4 linked regions of the Homo sapiens genome follow. The protein of the gene in region 2 purifies or fractionates together with the protein of the main gene of each other region. This does not show direct contact. Each region holds a gene or a part of one and is shown on either strand. Other genes may lie near its edges.

What was found. The genes of interacting proteins can lie anywhere in the genome.
Region 1: the proteins of SLC52A3 (region 2) and ABCB6 purify together in Homo sapiens (affinity purification with mass spectrometry; one large-scale study listed by BioGRID and IntAct). This does not show direct contact.
Region 3: the proteins of SLC52A3 (region 2) and SLC44A2 purify together in Homo sapiens (affinity purification with mass spectrometry; one large-scale study listed by BioGRID and IntAct). This does not show direct contact.
Region 4: the proteins of SLC52A3 (region 2) and NDFIP2 purify together in Homo sapiens (affinity purification with mass spectrometry; one large-scale study listed by BioGRID and IntAct). This does not show direct contact.

The regions. Positions count from the first base shown.
Region 1 is NC_000002.12:219,211,538-219,216,402, forward strand, and holds part of ABCB6 (ATP-binding cassette sub-family B member 6), read right to left. Parts: coding exon 4,827-4,865; intron 4,644-4,826; coding exon 4,460-4,643; intron 3,546-4,459; coding exon 3,424-3,545; intron 2,962-3,423; coding exon 2,852-2,961; intron 2,650-2,851; coding exon 2,584-2,649; intron 2,415-2,583; coding exon 2,289-2,414; intron 2,130-2,288; coding exon 2,053-2,129; intron 1,966-2,052; coding exon 1,902-1,965; intron 1,790-1,901; coding exon 1,704-1,789; intron 1,529-1,703; coding exon 1,471-1,528; intron 955-1,470; coding exon 850-954; intron 1-849. UniProt on the Homo sapiens protein: ATP-dependent transporter that catalyzes the transport of a broad-spectrum of porphyrins from the cytoplasm to the extracellular space through the plasma membrane or into the vesicle lumen.
Region 2 is NC_000020.11:761,583-766,064, forward strand, and holds part of SLC52A3 (solute carrier family 52, riboflavin transporter, member 3), read right to left. Parts: exon of another isoform or gene 4,244-4,482; 5' UTR 4,193-4,243; coding exon 3,626-4,192; intron 2,422-3,625; coding exon 1,916-2,421; intron 243-1,915; coding exon 119-242; intron 1-118. UniProt on the Homo sapiens protein: Plasma membrane transporter mediating the uptake by cells of the water soluble vitamin B2/riboflavin that plays a key role in biochemical oxidation-reduction reactions of the carbohydrate, lipid, and amino acid metabolism.
Region 3 is NC_000019.10:10,623,685-10,629,430, reverse strand, and holds the start of SLC44A2 (choline transporter-like protein 2), read right to left. Parts: upstream 3,879-5,746; 5' UTR 3,798-3,878; coding exon 3,761-3,797; intron 3,179-3,760; coding exon 3,130-3,178; intron 1,710-3,129; coding exon 1,636-1,709; intron 1,512-1,635; coding exon 1,427-1,511; intron 1-1,426.
Region 4 is NC_000013.11:79,546,711-79,551,732, reverse strand, and holds part of NDFIP2 (NEDD4 family-interacting protein 2), read right to left. Parts: intron 3,406-5,022; coding exon 3,339-3,405; intron 717-3,338; coding exon 613-716; 3' UTR 611-612; intron 1-610. UniProt on the Homo sapiens protein: Activates HECT domain-containing E3 ubiquitin-protein ligases, including ITCH, NEDD4, NEDD4L, SMURF2, WWP1 and WWP2, and consequently modulates the stability of their targets. As a result, may control many cellular processes.

The DNA.
Region 1 (4,865 bases), on a different chromosome or scaffold from region 2:
AAATGATCCTGCTGCCTTGACCTCCTAAAGTGTTGGGATTACAGGTGTGAGCCACCACACCTGGCTACAGAATATCGTTGTACCTTTTTTTTTTTTTTTTTTTTGTTTTGCTTTTTGTTTTGAGACAGGGCCTTGCTCTGTCACCCAGGCTGGAGTGCAGTGGCATGATCATAGCTCACTACAGCCTCCTGGTGGGACTACATGTGTGTGCCACCATGGCCAGCTAATTTTTTTTTTTTTTTTTGAGACAGAGTCTTGCACTCTTGCCCAGGCTGGAGTGCAGTGGCGCCATCTCGGCTCACTGCAAGCTCCGCCTCCTGGGTTCACACCATTCTCCTGCCTCAGCTTCCCGAGTAGCTGGGACTACAGGCGCCCGCCACCACGCCCAGCAAATTTTTTGTATTTTTCGTAGAGACGGGGTTTCACTGTGTTAGCCAGGATGGTCTCGATCTCCTGACCTTGTGATCCGCCCACCTCAGCCTCCCAAAGTACTGGGATTACAGGTGTGAGCCACCGCGCCCAGCAATTTTTGTATTTTTTGTAGAGAGGGTGTTTTGCCATGTTGCCCAGGCTGGTCTTGAACTCCTGGGCTCAAGTGATCCACCTGCCTCGGCCTCCCAAAGTGCTGGGATTATAGGCATGAGCCACTGCGCCCAGCCCTTTGTAGCTTTTATGGCACCATACAAATCCTTAACATGACTACTTTACTTGTGTGACTGTAGGTTATATCATGCTAGAATGGCCCTAGTTTTTTTGCAAGGGTGACATCTCCTCTCTCTGGACAGCCAGCCCTTATCATTCCTCCACACGTAGACCCCTAAACCACCGTCTTCTCCAGAGCAACCCTACCTGTGAAATGTCCTGCCCATCTATTCGGATGCAGCCAGAGCTGATGTCGTAGAAGCGAAACAGCAGGCGCAAAATTGTGCTCTTCCCTGCCCCAGATGGGCCCACCTGTTGCATTGGAAATGGGAAAAATCTCAGGCCCACTGGCTTTTTTTTTGAGACCGAATCTCACTCCGTCACCCAGGCTGCAGTGCAATGGCGCGATCTCAGCTCACTAGAACCTCTGCCTCCCAGGTTCAAGCGATTCTCTTGCCTCAGCCTCCCTAGTAGTGGGATTATAGGCACCCGCCACCATGCCCGGCTAATTTTTGTATTTTTAGTAGAGATAGGGTTTCACCATGTTGGTCAGGCTGGTCTTGAACTCCTAACCTTAGGTGATCTGGCCACCTAAGCCTCCCAAAGTGCTGGGATTACAGGCATGTGCCACCGCAGCCGGCCGAGGCCCACTGGCTTTTGAGGTTCCCTCTCCAAGAGGTCACCAGTGTCCATGGAGGCTGCACCATTCAATCCGGTTGCCTATCGTGACTGGGCTCTCTGACTCCACAGCCTGGGTCACAAGCTACCATGGGCACTGAATGAGGGAAGCTTGAGGCATCTGGGCCAAGTGGCTGGGTCTCCTCTCACCAGGGCAAGTGTCTGTCCAGGCATCACAGTGAAAGACACGTCCTGCAGAGTCTCCCGCCTGCAAGGAAAGGTGGGGTTGCTCAGCAGGCACCTTCCATCACCAGAGCTGCTAGTAGGCCCTGCCCCTCCCCTGCCCAGGCTCTTTTCCAAAAGCAGGGATTCAGAGCACTGAGAAGCAGGAAGGCAGTGTGCAAATGAACGGAAAAGCAAAGGAAGCAAAAGGAAGGCCTCACCCATCGGCATAGCTGAAGTGCACGTTCTCAAACTCAATACGGCCCTTCTGAAAGCGAAGGGGCCCTGCTCCAGGAAGGTCCTTCACCTGGAAGGGCACCACCCATGTGTGCTGAGGTTCTCAGCTTTGTGTTTTCCAAGCACGAGAAACACCACACAGCTCCTCCCTCCCCAAACCCTACTCCTCTCCCTTCGCTCACTTCTGTCTCCTCTTTCAGCAAGTCAAACATGTTCTCCATGTCAATGAAGTTGGTCTGGATCATCCTGCAAAAAGGTGCTGGTTAGGACTTCTCTGAGTAGCCAGGAAATAATAATGTGCCCTGGACAGGTGAGGGCCAGGGCTCAGATTACCTGTAGTAGGTGCCAAACCAATTGAGGGGCATGTACAGCTGGATAATGTAGGTGCCAAAGAGCACATAGTCCCCAACCTGTGGCAATCAAGGAAGCAGAGCATGTCACGGGGGGCCTGCAGGCCGCTCTTCTTGTGTCACCCTGCCCACTTCCTACCGAAGAGCCTGGTGACCAGACACAGGCCTCAGGCCCCCTTTTCCTTGTGCCCCACTCTCTCATCCAAGATCCTGCCTCACCTGTAGCTTCTGCTCAGTGACAAAGTATGCGCAAAGCAGGGAGCCGGCGAGGAGCCCGAGCCCAATCACCAGGTTCTGGGTCTGATTTAGTAAAACCAGTGAAGCGCTCGACTTCCACTCCAAACCCTGAGGGCAATAACACAGGAAGAGGAATGTCCTATACACAATGGCCATCAGTGAGTCCAAACCTGGGCCCAGGCCCCTTCTACCCCAACACTCGACTATCACTCTTGGCCCTGAAAATTCTACCAGGCCAGGGCATTATTCTCCGGAGGCCTCAAACTAGCATCCTCACCTGATATTTGATGATGGCCTCTCGATAGCGTTCCACTTCGTAACTCTCGGCGTTGTAATACTTCACCTGATGAATTCAAACCAAATTTATTTGGCATGGGCACAGCACATGGCACTCGGGTCATTCCCCCCAACTCTCAATCCTCCTTCCTGAGTTCAAACATCACACACAAACATCACACCCCCAGCTCTCTGTCAGCCCCAGTGGTCCTGGTTACACTCCTCCACATCTCCACGCCTCACACCACTGCCACCGGGCCCTCTGTTACCGTCTCGAAGTTTAGCAGAGAGTCCACTGCTCGTGCCCGGGTAGCGTTCTCCTGTGTGTTCATAGCACGACGAAACTTGGTTCTCCACTCAGTGACCACAATGGTCAGGGCTGGAGAGTGACAGGATGGGGAGCAGAATAGGACATCATCCCCAAAAGCAGAGACCAAATGTCAATGTCCACTACCTGCCATGTACACACTAAGCCTATGCTCAAGCCCGGACACCCAGATTCCACAGGGAGGCACCTCTGCAGCCTGCACAAAGTCTCATGTGTAGAAAACGCTTTTGGTAAATGAAAGCAAGCTGCATCTTGTTACACAAACGAGGCTTCCTTGACCTGTGTCCACGGCTCAGACTTAACGTGACAAGAATGTCCTTCCCCAGCCCCTCAGCTAGGTTAAGGTTTGATTTGACAGAAGAGACCCGCCCATCACATGACGAGCACTAGGAGCCCATTCAAGTCCACCAATCCACAGCCTCCCATAGGTGGGTCACTTGAGTGGGGGCACAGCTCATGGCCAAGGGAGTCCCTGGATAGTTCAGGGAGACGGTGTCTCCCAGCAGCACTCACTGAGGTAAAGACTCATGCACAGGAACACAATGAGGCCAAACCAGGCGTTGAAGAACATGCTGAAGTAGATGATGCCAATGATGATGTCGGCCAGCGTGGGGATGACATTGAACACCAGGTAGCTAGGAGGGCAGGTCAAGTGAATAAGAAAGGTCTGGGGGCTTAGACCCAGCAACCCTGCCTCTAGGCATTTCAGGGTAGTGTTTTATTTTCAAGCAACAGACTGGAACCAGTCTTAATTAATTCTACCCTCAAGAGGTGGGTGGCTAAATCAACCATGCTCAAACTACAGAATTCTCTGTATCAATTACAATGAATGAGGGAGACCTTCAGGCATGGAAGAAAAATATATCTCCATAATGTTCTGTTAATAAGCAACTCTGAGAATGATGGCTATGTCACAATACCATTTGTTTTAGGAAAAACCTCCACAATGCCATATTAGTTCTGTGAGTCTGCATATATAATATGTATGTAAAAATGCAAAAAAGCAGAACCCAGCTGGGCACAATGGCTCACAACTGTAATCCCAGCACTTTGGAATGCTAGGTGGGCAGATCACATGATGCTAGGAGTTCCAGGCCAGCCTGGCCAACATGGTGAAACCCTGTTTCTACAAAAAATCTAATAATTAGCCAGGCATGCTGGTGCACATCTGTAATCCCAGCTACTCAGGAGGCTGAGGCAGGAGAATTGCTTGAACCCGGGAGGCAGAGGTTGCAGTGAGCAGAGATTATGCCACTGTACTCCAGCCTGGGTGACAGAGCGTGACCCTGTCTCAAAAAAAGAGCAGAACCCAACATACTAAACAGAGTGGGAAGCTCTGAAAAAGTAAGTGCAGCTCGAAAGAGATTTGCCCTCTGCCCGCATTACCTAAGTTATTAGGAGAGCATGTATACAATAATCCTATACTTTAAAAAACACCAAGGTGGGAGCGGCAGCTTCTCAGGCGGGGTCTGTTCTCTTCCTCCCACGGGCCCCTATCCCTGCTTCTCCGGCTCCACCCTCCCACATGCCCTTTCCACTGGGGCGGCACCTGAGCAGCCCTGTGACACTGGATGTGCCCCGATCCGCGATCCGCAGCACCTCCCCTGTGCGGCGCCCCAGGTGCCAGCGCAGTGAGAGCTCGTGCAGGTGGGAGAAGATGAGCAGCTCCACCCGCCGAGACGTGAACTGCTGCACCCGGATCCACAGGAAGGTGCGCAGGTTGCTCACGAAGCCTGCAGGGAGCCGGGGGACGCCTCAGTAGGGCCTGGGAGCTGAGGGACGTCAGCCCAGCACCAGGATGTGAAAGGTCTGAGAGTACATGGGGGCTGGGGAGGAATGCTGGGAGAGGCGGATGCTGAGGGAATGCCTGTGGGAGGGACCTATACCTAGCAGGGTGAGGGCGGAGTCTCTCATACCTGTACTGCCAGTGCCACCCCCCTGGAGGAACTTGAGGA
Region 2 (4,482 bases):
TTCCCGGGAGGGTCCCACAGACCCCGCTCGCTGGAAAGGGCCGCGCCCAAGCTCTCCCAGGCCTTGGCTAGGGGTGAGGGGTACGCAGCGGGAGCAGCCCCACCGGCCGGATACTCACAATGAGGACTTCCCCACCCCAGTGGCCCTGCAAGAGGGGGCAGGGGCTCATCACCGCCATGGCCATGTTGTAGCCCCCAAAGCAGGTCCCAAGCACGGAGAGGACCCCCAGGAACAGCAGAGACCTAGAGGAAAGTAGGGGAGGTGAGTGGAGGTGAGAAGCCTGACCTCTGACCCCCCCGCCCCACTGGGCGGCATGTGGATGGCCAGTGTCTCCATAGTTAGTTTAGACCCATGTGGAAAATTCCAGGTTGCCTGGCTCAAGTGGGTCAGGGAGGCTCCTGAGCAGGCAGGGCTGGCCTGAGTCATCCCCAGCATTAACGGCAGGGCCTGGCACCCCGGCAAGAAAAACATAATGGACTCTGGCACCGGATGGTCCTGGTTCAAATCCCAGTTCTACTGTTTAAGCTGAGACTCGCCTCTGAGCCTCCAAATCGGAGTTTTGCAAGGCTGCATGACCTCCAGGAGCAGAGCATGCAGGCCTGGCGCCGCTGTGGGCCCACCTGGTGTTTACCTGCTGGCATTTCCTCCTGCAACACACCCTCAGCCTCAGCCAGGAAGCTGAGTTGAAGTGAAGATGGCTGGATCGGGCATTGGCACAGTAGGGTTTGCTGTGCCTCCTCAGGAGACCCCTCCCCTTCTGGCCTCAGCTACCTGCCTCTGCAATGTGGAGTGTGCTGATCTCCAGGGGTCCTGGCAGCTGGCTTGTTGCTGCTAGGAGCATCTCTCTACAGGTGGCCTTCCATGCAAACCTACATCTGGGACCACTGTCCTTCCTCACAGGTCCTTGTCCCTGGGGTCCCAATCTCTAGAACCCCAAGACTGGTCCACGCCCTGGGTAAGAACAGACAGAGGTCTGCCTATACCCTTAAAGACTCTTTCTGCTCCAAGATTCTTGGATTCCATGACTCAGATTCTGTAATTCTAACATTTGGGGTTTCTTGGATTTGCAGGTCTGAGCCTTTGGTCCTGCTTCCCTCAAATCCTCCATCCTCTTTCCAGTTTCTAGGTCCCAAGGTAGAAAATCCAGCTTCCTGGCAAGCTTTCTGTCAAGCTCTTCTGTCCTCACTGTCCTTCTTCTGGGCTGGGAGAGTGGGTGTAAGCAGGCCAGTGAGGACAGGCAGGCCAGCGTGGATACGAGGCTGTAGGACCCACCTCAAATGTCAAGATCCCAAGGTGGTAGTTCTCCTACAGGGGTCTGAAGCCCCTGCCTCAGAACCGTCTGGTTTCCTTACTAAAAATTGAAATCCCAGGTCCCAGTCTAGGCTGGTTCAATCTGCATTTTATCAACTTGCCCAGCCATTCTTCTAGAACTGTGGCTCTAAGGGAACCAGCAGGAGGTTAGAGGCAGGAAGGCAGGGCCGAAATCCTGGGAATTAGACCAGGTCAAGCTCTTTCTCCAAGCCTCAGGGTTTCCCCTTATAAACGGGAACCTCAGTGGCTATCTGCTCCTCCTCATGGACTGATGACAATGATGGTCAACGCTTAGGCTGGACCTGCCACGTGCCAGGCACCGCTCCAAGAGCTTTATAGAATCAGCTCATATCATGCTTCCAGCAGTCCTAGGAGGTGGAATGTTACACTCCCATTTTCCGATAAATATCCCTGAGGCACAGAGAACTGAAGTGACTTGTCTTACACACAGCTGACAGGTGGCAGAGCTGGGATTTGGACCAGGGTGCTCCCCAAACATGTTCTTAACCACTACATGTACAGCCCAGTAGGTGCGTTTGGAATTCTGGGTTCTGAAATGAAGTGTTCCCCCACTAGGATTCCCTAGGACCAGATGAGGGCACACCTGTTAGGCAGGAACATGGAGACCAACGAGGCAAGAGGGTTGGCCACAATGCTGAGGGTGGCAGCCAGGTGGTAGGCAACTGGCCCATAGGACAGGCAGGAGTAGGTCTGCACAGAGGGCAGCATGCCGTTGGTGAGCGCGTTGACGAAGGCCACCAGGGTATAGATGAAGGCCAGGTGCGCCGGGCAGCAGGGGGCTGCTTTCTCCTCTAGATACCCCTGGCCCTGGCTGCTGTCCACCGTGCCTGCAGGGCCCAAGTCATTCTCTTCCCGCGGCCGGATGGAGTGGAGGGTGACCTGGTCATTGAGGAGGTCTTCCACGGAAGCCTCCCAGCACCTGGGTTGACGCTGGAGGACAAAGAACGCCACGAGGCAGCAGGCCATCATGATGGATAGGAGGAGGAAGAAGACCAGGGGTGAGAAGTGGGCGGGAAGGTAGCGGCTCTCCAGGTGGGACAAGGGTGCTTCCATTCCGGGGAGGGCGGACACCAAAGCTCTGGGAACTCCCTGCAAAGGACAAGACAGATCCCTGGTCAGGGGAGGGGATCAGGCTGCAGAACAACAATCATGACAGTGATAACAGAATACAGATCACCTGTTATTATTAATGGATAATGAATAAATAAACATAACTAACAAGGTGGCAATAATGACTGCTCATACTGACTGCCCACTGAGCACGGGCACTGTGCATGGATAAGCCCCTATGCCTCCTAACAGGGCTGCACAGTGGGCACCATCATCCCCCATTTTAGAGGGAACTGAGGTATCAGAATGCTTCGTCCCTTACCTGAGGGTCACAGGGAGAATGTGGCAAAGCCAGACTCCACCTGGTGCTTTCTGACTTGGAAGCTACACCTTTTATCACCCCACAGCAGTGGCAACCACAAACATGTTCAGAGGAGGAGCTAGCTGGAGACTGAGCAGTGGAGCCGCCCACCTAAGAGGAGAGCCCCCACCTAAGGGGAGAATCCCCCACCTAAGGGGAGAGCCCCCACCTAAGGGGAGAATCCCCCACCTAAGGGGAGAGCCCCCACCTAAGGAAGAACACTGCTCCACCCATCGTCTAGGAAATAAGGGCCTTCAGGACATGCCATCCCAAAATATGACTGTAGGAGGCCAGAATATGCCACCCCAAAATTGACCTATTGGCATATTTTTTATTTCTAGCTGGTTATTTTGAAAAATTGCAGGCTAAGGAGTAGCTCTGAAAAGTTGCCATTTTGTAAGATAAATTTACATCTAAAGGAAATTTTTATTAGTAAAGCTATCTTATCTGTACCAAGAAAAGGTATCTGTACCACGAAGGGGTATCTGAACCAGGAAGAGAAAGGTGATGGCCTTTATCACCCGAGGAACTTTTATCTGCATAACAGTGCAATGTTTATTCACCATAAGTTTCCTCCCTTCACTCTCCCATAATTTGTCTCCACCATCCTGCAGTAGCCTCAAGCCCCTATTCCCTTTTGTAGCTCAGGATGCTATAGAAGCTGAAATCATCTGGCCCTTTTTTGAGTCTCATATTTTTTGGGGACTCCCATGCGTATGTATGTAAGTAATTAAAATGAGTTTCCTGCTGTTGATCTGCCTTATGTCAGTTTAACTCATAGGCCGACCAAAGAACCTAGAAGGATGGAGGTGAGCAGTTTTTCCCTCCCCTACATTTGTGATAAAGCCAAGTGCTGAGATGGCTCCGGGTGATGCTGGGTACCTGTGCGATGTCAGTCTCCCTCGTGGGTACAGGGCTTGGTACGCTGTCTGATATCTCAGTGACATTGACGCAGGTAGTGAGACCGGAGCCCTGGGCAAGAGCCACCAGGGCGGGCAAGAGGCCGCTGAGTCCTTCACCCACAAAGAAGGTGGTGAGGTAGTAGGTGGGCAGCCGGCTCATGAACGGCAGGAAGGTCACTGAAGAGGTGCAGTCCACCAGGGCCAGGAAGAAGGTGAGGACCAAGAAGGCGATGCTGTGGTGGCCGTCCAGCACCCAGGAGGTCATATTCCAGAGGAAGGCAAAGATGATGCAGGTGACGGTTCCCACGCCCAGCAGGGTGAAGATGATGGGCACTTCGGAAAGGCAGCTGGGCCGGAAGTGATGGAGCAGGGTGACCAGGAGGGGCCCGATGTTGGCCAGCTGGATGACCACCGTGAGGTAGGAGGGCAGGTACCAGCCCTCGGGCAGCTCCATCACCAGCAGGGGCAGCTCTACCCAGAGCCCATTGATGGTCACCCAGGAGCCCATTCCGAAGACGCAGACCAGCAGGTGCATCAGGAAGGCCATGGCGGTATCTGCCCTGGGCCAGAGGCTTTCTCAGATCAGCCTGCAGCGGGGCTGGCAGAGAAGGACACCAGGTGAGTAATTCCAGCTTCACCACCTAGCAAGATGCTGGGACCTGGGGCCCAGAGTTTTCTCTTATTACTCCCCTTCCTGTGAACAAGCTGGCTTTTTTTTTTTTCCTTTGAGACATAGTTTCACTCTTTTAGTCCAGGCTGGAGTGCAATGGGATGATCTCGGCTCAGTGACCCTCTGCCTCCTGGGCTCAAGTGATTCTCCTGCCTCAGTTTCCCAAA
Region 3 (5,746 bases), on a different chromosome or scaffold from region 2:
TGGCATATGCCTGTAATCCCAGCAACTCGGGAGGCTGAGGCAGGAGAACCGCTTGAACCCGGGAGACGGAGGTTGCAGTGGGCTGAGATTGTGCCACTGCACTCTAGCCTGGGTAACAAGAGCAAAATTCCGTTTCAAAATAATAATAGTAATAATAATAATAATAATAGTTTAAAAACTGCAGCATCAGCAACTCTATGCCAGGTGCCATTCTTTTTTTTTTTTTTGAGATGGAGTCTTGCTCTGTTGCCTAGGCTGGAGTGCAGTGGCACGATCTCGGCTCATTGCAACCTCTGCCTCCCAGGTTCAAGCAATTCTCCTGCCTCAGCCTCCTGAGTAACCGGGATTACAGGAACATGCCACAATGCCCAGCTAATTTTTTTGTATTTTTAGTAGAGACGGGGTTTCACCATGTTGACTAGGCTGGTCTTGATCCTCCCACCTCAGCCTCCCAAAGTGTGCTGGGATTACAGGTGTGAGCCACCACGCCCAGCGATGCCAGGTGGCATTCTAAGCTCTGTACATGTATTGGCACATCTAACCATCAAAATAGCCCCATGAGGGTGGGACTGTTATGATCCTCATTTTAGAGATGAGGAAAACGAGGTTCAGAGAGATTGAGACACCTGCCCTAGGTCACAGAGCCAGGAAGTGACGCCACTCAGGCTATGCTTGCTCTGTTGTCTCACCTGTTCATCACCACCTGACGCGTAATCCAGGACTGTCCCCTCTCAGTCTCTCCCGCCCTTAAAATGTGTGCTGCCAGAGAACAGGATGCTTACTATCTCATTTAGAGCTGTGTGTCCCCAAGGACTAGACTAGTGGCTGAGGGTAGTGGGACGTTTATCAGTACTTGTTTTCTTTTCTTGTTGTTTTGTTGAGACCAGGTCTCGCTCTGTCGTCCAGGCTGGAGTGCAATGGTACAATCATACCTTACTGCAGCCTTGGCCTCCCAGCTCAAGCTATCCTCCCACCTCAGCCTGCTGGGTAGCTGGGACTAGAGGTGTGCCCCACCACGTCCACTTAATTTTTGCTTGTTTGTTTTGAGACAGAGTCTCACTCTGTGCCCCAGGCTAAAGTGCAGTGGCACGATCTCGGCTCATTGCAACTTCTGCCTCCTGTGGTTCAAGTGATTCTCCTGCCTCAGCCTCCTGAGTAGCTGGGATTACAGGCATGTGCCACCATGCCTGGCTAATTTGTGTATTTTTAGTGGAGACGGGGTTTTGCCATGTTGGCCAGGCTGGTCTCGAACTCCTAGCCTAAAGCAATATTCCTGCCTCGGCCTCCCAAAGTGTTGGAATTTCGGGCGTGAGTCACCGCGCCCAGCCTATAAGCACTTGTTAACTGGACTTAGAGAGATGGGGAATGCCTAGAATCTTCTGCCCCCTCTTCCCCAGCCCCACCAGGCCGCAAGGAGTCAACTCACTCGTTTTTTGTGCCCTTCTGCCCGCAGAACTCGCCCCGGCTGTCAGTGGGGTAGATCACCTTTCGAGGGTCTCCATGAGTCCAGGCTGTGGAAAGATCCAGGGATACTGAGACACTGCCACTCCTCAGATCCAGCCCTGTTCCCACTCCAGAGGCCATGGCTGCCTCCGCCTACCCTGCAACTCCAAGTCCTGCTCATTCTCTACTCACCTATGATGCCTACAGCCACGTAGCCCACAATGGCCAGGAGCAGGAACACACAGCATATGATATCCGTGCAGCCCCTGGGGAGCAGAGGGGCAGTGTTTGGAGGAGGCTTGGTGCTGTGTGCACCATGGGCCCATCTGCCCTCTGCAAACACCCTCATCCATGTGTTATTTGGACAAATTTTCCTGAGTCGTTTGAATGCCGTACCAAAGGGCACATGCATTTTAATTTTTATTTCATTTCATTTTTTAATTTTGTGCAACAGAGTCTCACTCCGTCATCCAGGCTGGAGTACAGTGGCATGATCATAGCTCACTACAGCCTCGAACTCCTGGGCTCAAGTGATCCTCCTGCCTCAGCTTCCCAAGTAGTTGAGACTACAGGTGCACACCACCACACATTTTTTTTTTAATTTATATACATTCTGTAGAGACAAGGTCTCGCTATGTTGCCCAAGCTAGACTTTTTTTTTTTTTTTGAGAGGGAATCTCACTCTGTCGCCCAGGCTGGAGTGCAGTGGAACGATCTCAGCTTACTGCAACCTCTACCTCCCAGGTTCAAGCGATTCTCCTGCCTCAGTCTCCCAAGTAGCTGGGATTATAGGTGCCCGCCACCATGCCCAGCTAATTCTTGTATTTTTAGTAGAGACAGGGTTTCACCATGTTAGCCAGGCTGGTCTCGAACTCCTAACCTCAAGTGATCCACCTGCCTTGGCCTCCCAAAGTGCTGGGATTATAGGTGTGAGCCACCGTGCCTGGCTGTATTTTATTTTTTTGTTATTTTTTTTTGAGACAGAGTCTCGCTCTTGTCCTCCAGGCTGGAGTGCAGTGGCGCAATCTCAGCTTACTGCAACCTCCACCTCCCAGATTCAAGCAATTCTCCTGCCTCAGCCTTCTGAGTAGCCTCTGAGTAGTCACAGCTACTGGAGAGGCTGAGACAGAAGACGTGCTTGAACCAGGAGGGGAAGGTTGCAGTGAGCTGAGATTGCACCACTCCAGCCTGGGTGACAGAGTGAGACTCCATCTCAAAAATAAATAAATAAATAAATAAATATAAACATGGTAAAAATTAAGTCCAGGCCAGGTGTGGTAACTCACACCTGTAATCCCAGCACTTTGGGAGGCCAAGGCAGGTGGATCGCTTTGAGCTCACGAGGTCGAGACCAGCATGGGCAACACAGCGAAACATCTCTGCTAAAAGTACAAAAAAAAAAAAAAATTAGCCAGGTGTGGTGGTGCAAGCCTGTAATCCCAGCTACTTGGGAGACTGAGGTGGGAGAATTGCTCGAACCCGGGAGGCGAAGGTTGCAGTGAGCCGAGATTGAGATCGCGCCACGGCACTCCAGCCTGGTGACAGAGCAAGACTCCATCTCAAAAAAAAAAAAAAGTTTCAAATATTTGTCACCAGTTTGTTGGAGAACAGATGGGAGGGGGTGTGAAGAGACAGGGATTGGGGTAGTATTAGCGGGGAGAACCCCCCAAAACCCAGAGCTCTTACCTATTGTAAATGGGTCCTTTGAAAGTGGGATCATACTTCTGTGGCGTTCCTGAAAGTCAAGAAGATTAAGATGGATGGGATTGGAGACCTGAACCAAGACAGGGCTGGGAGAGCCCCCTCCCAAAAGCCCCTAGGGGTGTCTTTGCCTTGGCAAGAATAAAATTCAGAGACCTGTGGAATTTTCTGCCTCACCCACCTCCAGGTGACCACACCCAAGCCCCCAGTTCTGGCAGGCCAGGACAGGGGAGGAAGGAGGGATCACTAACTGTGAACAAACTTATTAACTGGCGGCCACCCACTGGGAAGAGGGCTGAAATGGTGACCACCACGGAACCAGGTGGAGATGGGGAAGATCTGAGGTGGGATAGGGGGAAGGAGGCGCCGGCAGCAGTGCCAGGCAGAGGGGTACAGGGGCAGGTCCTTCGGGTAGGGGAGAGTAAGGAGGGTCGTCTGCGAGGCTGCGGGGGATAAGTGGGGTGAAGGGGCCTGGCTGATGGTGGGGAGGCTCCAGGCGCAGATTTGCAATTGCGCTCCCCCTCCAGCCCCCTTCCCTGCGCCCCATGTTCTCTCAAGGCCCCCTCCGAGGGACCGAGGGGTCGGCCCGGGGCTACGGGCGGGGGTCGCTGCCTACCGTGTTTCCCGTAGTAGTGGGGCCGCTCGTCCCCCATCCCTGCAGGCGACCAGCCCCGGCGGCCGCCCGCGCTCTCTCCCGCGCCCCCTCGACCCTCCCGAGTCTGGAGGGAGGCACTGACCGCGCGACTGGCGGCGGCTCCTCCCAGCACAGCGCCAGGCGGGGCGGCCCAAACCGGTCAGACCGGCCCGAGCTGGGCAGCTGCCCAGACTAAGGGACCCGGGAGGGCGCGGGCGGGGCTGCAGCTGCTCCCGCCACTCACCGGCCGGCCGCATTTAGCCTTCCCCGCCCCCACCCGGGAACCCTGCGGCTTCACCCTGGGAACACCCTGCCACCGGGCGATGCCGCCTAGAACCCCTGGCCACCCTGAAAGGGCGTTTCCGTGGCTTCGTTTTGCAGGTGTGGAAACTGAGGCACTGGGAGGGAAAACGGCCTACTGCCCAAACCCAGACAACCAACTGTGGAATGTTGGTGCTGAAAACTTCTCCAAGCTGTGCAGGAAATTAGTTTTCTTTCTGTCTGCTGCTTTTTTTTTTTGAGACAGGATCTCCCTCTGTTGCCCAGGCTGGAGTGCAGTGGTGCAATCACAGCTCATCGCAGTCTCGACCTCCCTGCCTCAAGCCATCCTCCTGACTAAGCCTCCTGAGTAGCTGGGACTACAGGTGCTCTACTGCACTCGGCTAATTTTTAATTTTTTTTGTAGAGATGGGATGTTGCTATGTTGCCCAGGCTCATCTTTAACTCCTGGACTCGTGGGCTCCTCCCACCGTGGCCCCCCAAAGTGCTGGGATTACCTGCGTGCACTACTGGGCCTGGTCTTAGAACAAGTATTTATTCAGCCCTTAGTGGGTGCAGGCCTTGGGCGGGGCACCGCATACAGTGAGGAACCAGAGAGACCCAATCTCCACCCTTGTGGAGCCCACATCCTCCTGGGTCGCCCTGAATTCAAATGCTCCTTCTGCACCCTCTGAACTAGAGGATACTTAACAAAGGGCTTATCTTCCTTAAGCCTCAGTTTCCTCAACTGCAAAATGAGGCTAAAGTATGAAACCAAAACTGACCTCAAAGAGCAGGCATAGGCCAGGTGCAGTGGCTCATGCCTGTAATCCCAGCACTCTGGGAGGCTGAGGCAGGTCGATCAGGATTTCTAAGCCAGCCTGGCCAACATGGTGAAACCCCTTCTCTACTAAAAATACAAACATTAGCCAGTGTGGTGGCACATGCCTGTAATCCCAGCTACTTGGGAAGCTGAGGCAGGAGAATCGCTTAAACCCAGGAGGTGGAGGTTGCAGTGAGCCAAGATTGCCTCACTGCACTCCAACCTGGGGGACAGAGTGAGACTCTGTCTCCAAAAAGAAAAAGAAAAAAGAAAATAGGCTGGGTGTGGTGGCTAACACCTATAATCCCAGCACTTTGGGAGGCCGAGGTGGGCGGATCATGAGGTCAAGAGATCGAGACCATCCTGGCCAACTTGGTGAAACCCCGTCTGTACTAAAAATACAAAAATTAGCTGGATGTTGTGGTGTGCACCTGTAGTCCCAGCTACTTGGGAGGCTGAGGCAGGAGAATCACTTCAACCCGAGAGGCGGAGGTTGCAATGAGCCGAGATCGTGCCACTGCACTCCAGCCTGGGTGACAGAGCGAGTGTCTCAAAAAATCAATCAATCAATAAATCAAAAATTAGCCGGGTGTGGTGGTTCATGCCTGTAATCCCAGCACTGTGGGAGGCCGAGGCGGGCAGATCACTGAGGTCAGGAGTTCAAGACCAGCCTGGCCAACAAGGCAAAACCCTGTCTGTACTAAAAATACAAAAATTAGCCAGGTGTGGTGGTGGGCACCTGTAATCCCAGCTACTGGGGAGGCTGAAGTAGGAGAATCGTTTGAACCTGGGAGGTAGAGGTTGCAGTGAGCCGAGATTATGCCACTGTACTCCAGCCTGGGCGACAGAGCGAGACTCCGCCTCAAAAAAAAAAAAAAATACAATAC
Region 4 (5,022 bases), on a different chromosome or scaffold from region 2:
AACCAGTAAGACAACTTCTACTCATTTCTTCATATTCCTACTTATTCAAGTTGTAGCCTTCATAGTTGATAAAAAATCAGCACACATTAAGAAAACAATAACAGAACTATTTTCTTCACATGACTTTTATTCCTTAATCCAGACTGTTAAAAGGACTGCAAGACAAATTGTTTTTCAATCAGATTTTTTTCTCCACCAGATGTCTATGTGAATTTCATATTGTTTTAGACAAAAATGCTCATTCCTTCGGTCTAAGTACTATGTCATATTTTGTTTTTTCAAGCCTTCAAATTTTGTGCTGGTGGTTACTTCATATACATTCTATGGTTAATCTTTAAAGAGAAGTTTTAAAAGTCTGATTCAAAATTTCAGTTCACTCGCTATGTATTTTAAAAATTAAAATTTATGAAATTCAATTTTAAAAATCTAAAAGTTATCTAAAAAGGTCTATGACTTATCAAATTTCAATAAGCTGACTGTTAGCAGTATTAAAAAATATTAAATATGCTAACAGTAAAAATCATGAATACACATTAGGCATTTAATATGTATCTGGCAAATTTGAATACATAAAGGGAATAGGCAGAGTTCACAGATTAATATTTCTTACCTCTACAATAAGAAGAAATACCTTGTTCTATGAGCAGCTGCCATACTTTCAGACATGTTTCTGACTTTTAGATAATTAACAAATCCTCTGAAGAAAAGGAGCAGGCCTGAGAAGGTTGAAATAATATGGATATACTATGTTTTTATACAGAAAAGGGCAAGATAAATTTAAAGTAGACAATTATAAACAAGATCCTCTTGGCTTAAGGAATTTTACTTGCAGACTTCCATTCATTTCTGTAATATATTTTACACTATAAGGATAAACTCTGTCACAAGGAAATACAATTTTTCAATTTGTTAAGCCTAGATGTACCAAAATTAAAGCAAATCTAGCTATAAAAATCCAGAATTACATAAAAATATACATTTAAGTGATTTTCTTCAATAGTAAAGTTACCTGACGCACTTAAACTGATTCAACTCATAAAAACCCCATTGAACCCATGGGCTCAATCTTTTCAATTAATATAACTACTGGGTGAACTAAGACATATTTATTTATATAAAGTAGATAAAAAGGAAATATATACATGAGGTTACTAACAATTATGAGGAAAAAAACAATAAGCCTGTATAGTAATATCAAGTGCCTGTCATCTGTGAAATCTGTATTTGAAGATACGTGCATTATGTACATATTTTTAATTATGAGTTCTTATTTTGAAGTAATAATAAAAAACTAACTTATAATAAAAAATTAAGATGAGTTAGAAAAGACAACTTGGAAGACAGTCACTCTAATGATTTAGATTATTTGGGATACATCTTATATCTACCTCAGTTTTCTCCTTTGTAAAGTAGTATTTTAAAATAACAACCACAAATATATTTAATAATTTAAAAAGCAATACCTGTAAAATTCTCTAAAGTTTCACATAAAAAATATTAGATAAGTATAAAACATTACCATTACTAGTATAAGCCTTTGAAATACTTAAGCATATGATTCTTAGGGAAACATTTATTAACTCCAGCAAATTTTTAACCAGGAAAACAGGGTGGGGGGGATCCAAAAACAAAAACAGAAGATATCTACTGTATGTGTATGACTTTCCTCACCAGGAGGAAAAGGAGTTTGTGAATTTAAAATATGAAGTCTCAAACTAAATTTGTACCCCAACTGCAAGACAGTAATCAAATCACTAAAAACAAGAAGCATGTGTGTAGTAAATTGGAGAGGAAAGACAGAAGAGAGATACAAATGATGACTTAAATGGTATAAATTACAGCTAAACCCAATCGCATCTGCTTCCCATATCCTAACTCCCTCCTTTTGGGACTCCTTCTGAATTCCACCCTCATGCCCTTCCAGATGCTGTTCAAAGATAATAATACTGTTATCCAAATGTAAAAATATTATTGAAAAATGTAAACCAACTTATTTGTGGGATCCCTTCCTTTGTCTCTAAAGCTGCTGTTTTCTAACACACATTTTACTTCTCAGGCATTTTCTAAAAGAAGCCACCCAGTTCATACCTAAAAACCAATCGCTCAGTGGCTACTGTTTCTCAGCATTCTACAAAGTGCTCAACATTCTTTTCAGCATATGTGAGAGCAACATTTTTATCACTGATTACATTTTCACATTCCCCTAAATAAATAAACACTAGATTATGGCTCTGAAGTGGAACTGGCATTGTCCTCTGTATTCTACTCTGCCCCACACTAACCTCCTTAAGATTCCTCCAATCTCTAAATAATATATATATACACACAAATGTACTCATTTAATATGCTTAAATACTTAATAGACTTTATAAACCTTCTCACTTTTAGGTAAGAAACTCAATAAAGAACACGGCATTCAGGCAGTTAGAACACATAATATAAAACTGGCTTCACCTCCAGATGCATCTCAACAAAGTCACAACACTAAAATAATTTCAATATAGCTATTAAAGAATTAAGTGACCTTATCTGACTAACAATAATTTGTTTCCCAAAAGATCCTAAAGATCCAACAGTATGACTAAATAAAAACTCAGAGAGAAGACTGCCACCTACTGAAATGCTGTTATTTTCTGGTAAAATTCTGAGTGAAACATGGGCTTTTACTCTTAACTAGAAACAAAAGGTATTCCTTATGTCAGCAAATACATCTGAAATGTGGATTAAAGATATAATGTGATTTAATGATTAACTTAATTATCTCACATTGAAGGTAAAAAACAAAAGGGAACAAAAATTGAAAATCCATAAAATTCCATCAATATTAATAAAAAGACACGTCTTATAGGAAGACAACTCAACAGAAGCACTGTGATCATTAGGCATAAAGCCTTTCCTTATGCCTGGCTGATTAATGATTAATTCAAGGCACATTTCAAAAGCATAAAGAATGTTTCCATGATCAAAAAATAAGAGAACAGATAGAACAACCAAACTATCCAACTCTCAAATTTCCTAAGATCATTAAAAGAAGTCATTTGTGTATGTTTTCTGAGATAAATGCTAAAGACAATTTTTTATCACGTTGTTATTTTAAAATTTTTTAGCATTCAATTATCATCCCGCCACTGACTCTTTACACTGATAGCCTCTGGATTTTAAATCTAAGAAATCTGTAGTGCTATATAGAATAGTTTAAAAACGTGAGATGATGTGTTTGAATATGAGAATTTTACAGAAGAAAAATAATTTCCACATAAATTGCAACACAGTTTATTTACATCTTACAGTTTTTGGAAATATCCAAGTTAAACTAAATGCATTAAGAATAAACTTACCAAGTACAAGAAATATCCACCAAAGCCAATACTGTCCATTGAAATATCCAGTAAAATAATCAGAAAACTATGGAGTGAACATAAATATATTAACCGAATTCATACACCTGAATTTGAAAATCATAAATTATCTTCAGTTTCATAATGATTTACTTCAAATAATCTTTAACACTTAAAAATGGCACAAAGGAAAAATAAAAACACTTAATGGCATACACAGCATACACATATATAAATTATTTGAGAAAAAATCATCTTATGCAATAGCAAAAAAAAAATTGGAGTATTTTTAGAAACAAAAACCAGTTTCAAACTCCCCGCAAGAAACAGTAAATGCTGTATGTCTGAATCACACATTTTCTTATTAGAAATTTCACGTCAGTCCTTTTTTCATAATCTCTCAAAACCACAACTACCATCCCAAACACACTACAGCAACCCGCTGCTTCAGATATTAACACCAAAAGCCACATTAGTTTAATCTTATCAGATGGGGGTGTTCTGCTGACCTCCAAAAGAAGAGCTTTTGACCTTCTGTACACCCCCTACTGTTAATCACTGCCAAAAATACTAGGTGCATAAAGACCCCCATTAGAGTCTTTTTATTTTCAAACTAGATGCTCTAGCATTCAGTTCCCAACAGAGAGCTGAGAACAGCTAAATGAACCTTAAAGTGGCATTTCAACAGTTCCTATTAGTGGCCATGGTAGACAGTTTTATATTCTCCGTGGTGTGGGAATATGAACAGGCAGATGGAAGGCAGAATTTGATGATATTGGACACAGTTATCCTTTCCTTGATTAGACTCTAGACATCACACTTCATTAATTTTAAAAGGTTTTTTAAAAAATCAATCTAATTTTCTTCAGTTACTTCAGATAACTTTAGCACCTAAAACAATGCCTCAAATGATTACTTTTTAAAAAGTGTTTAATATAACCTACTCTAAAACTGTTAAAAATTAGCTTGTGTTTACCCACCCTGTTTCCACTGGTCTGCAAACTGAATCTGATGTAACTAAAAATGATTCCACTAAATGCAGACTTGCTCTCAAATCTAATACTAACTAAAAGTATTTGTAACTTTATAAGTAAAGATTTCCAATTATTTGTTGGTAATTTCTATATAAGCTTAAAAATCCTAGGCTGTGGCAAAAATAAAAAATGCTTACAAATTGTAAATAATGTTATCATTTAGTAAGCATATCAAATAAAGATTATCTAAGTCTGTTTTTTATAGCCTTTTAAGTATTTTCTCAGGAAGTATTTCCAATTAATAAATAAACCATTTATAGTAATTTCAGTATTTATAGTAATTTCATATTTTAAATTTTATAGTAATTTTTTAAAATTTATAGTAATTTCAGAGATTTAAAATTTCAAAGTACTACTAAAAACATAAATCCCATGTACACCTACATCTTTAAAATATATGTACAATGAAGGAGGGACTTGAAATTGAAAAGATACAGCTTATACAGGATGGTACTATACTATTTTTTAGTCAAGTGATTAACAGTTAGAAATACAACATTTTCATATAGGTCTTAAAGGCTGTAAGAACAAAAAAGAATAAAGAACAAAGGCAATACATTTTTTAAATTTCTGCGTGTTACCCAGTAACAGGTAACCTGAACATCAAGAACAGTCATTCTTCACCAAAAATGTTTACCATAAAACTAGTT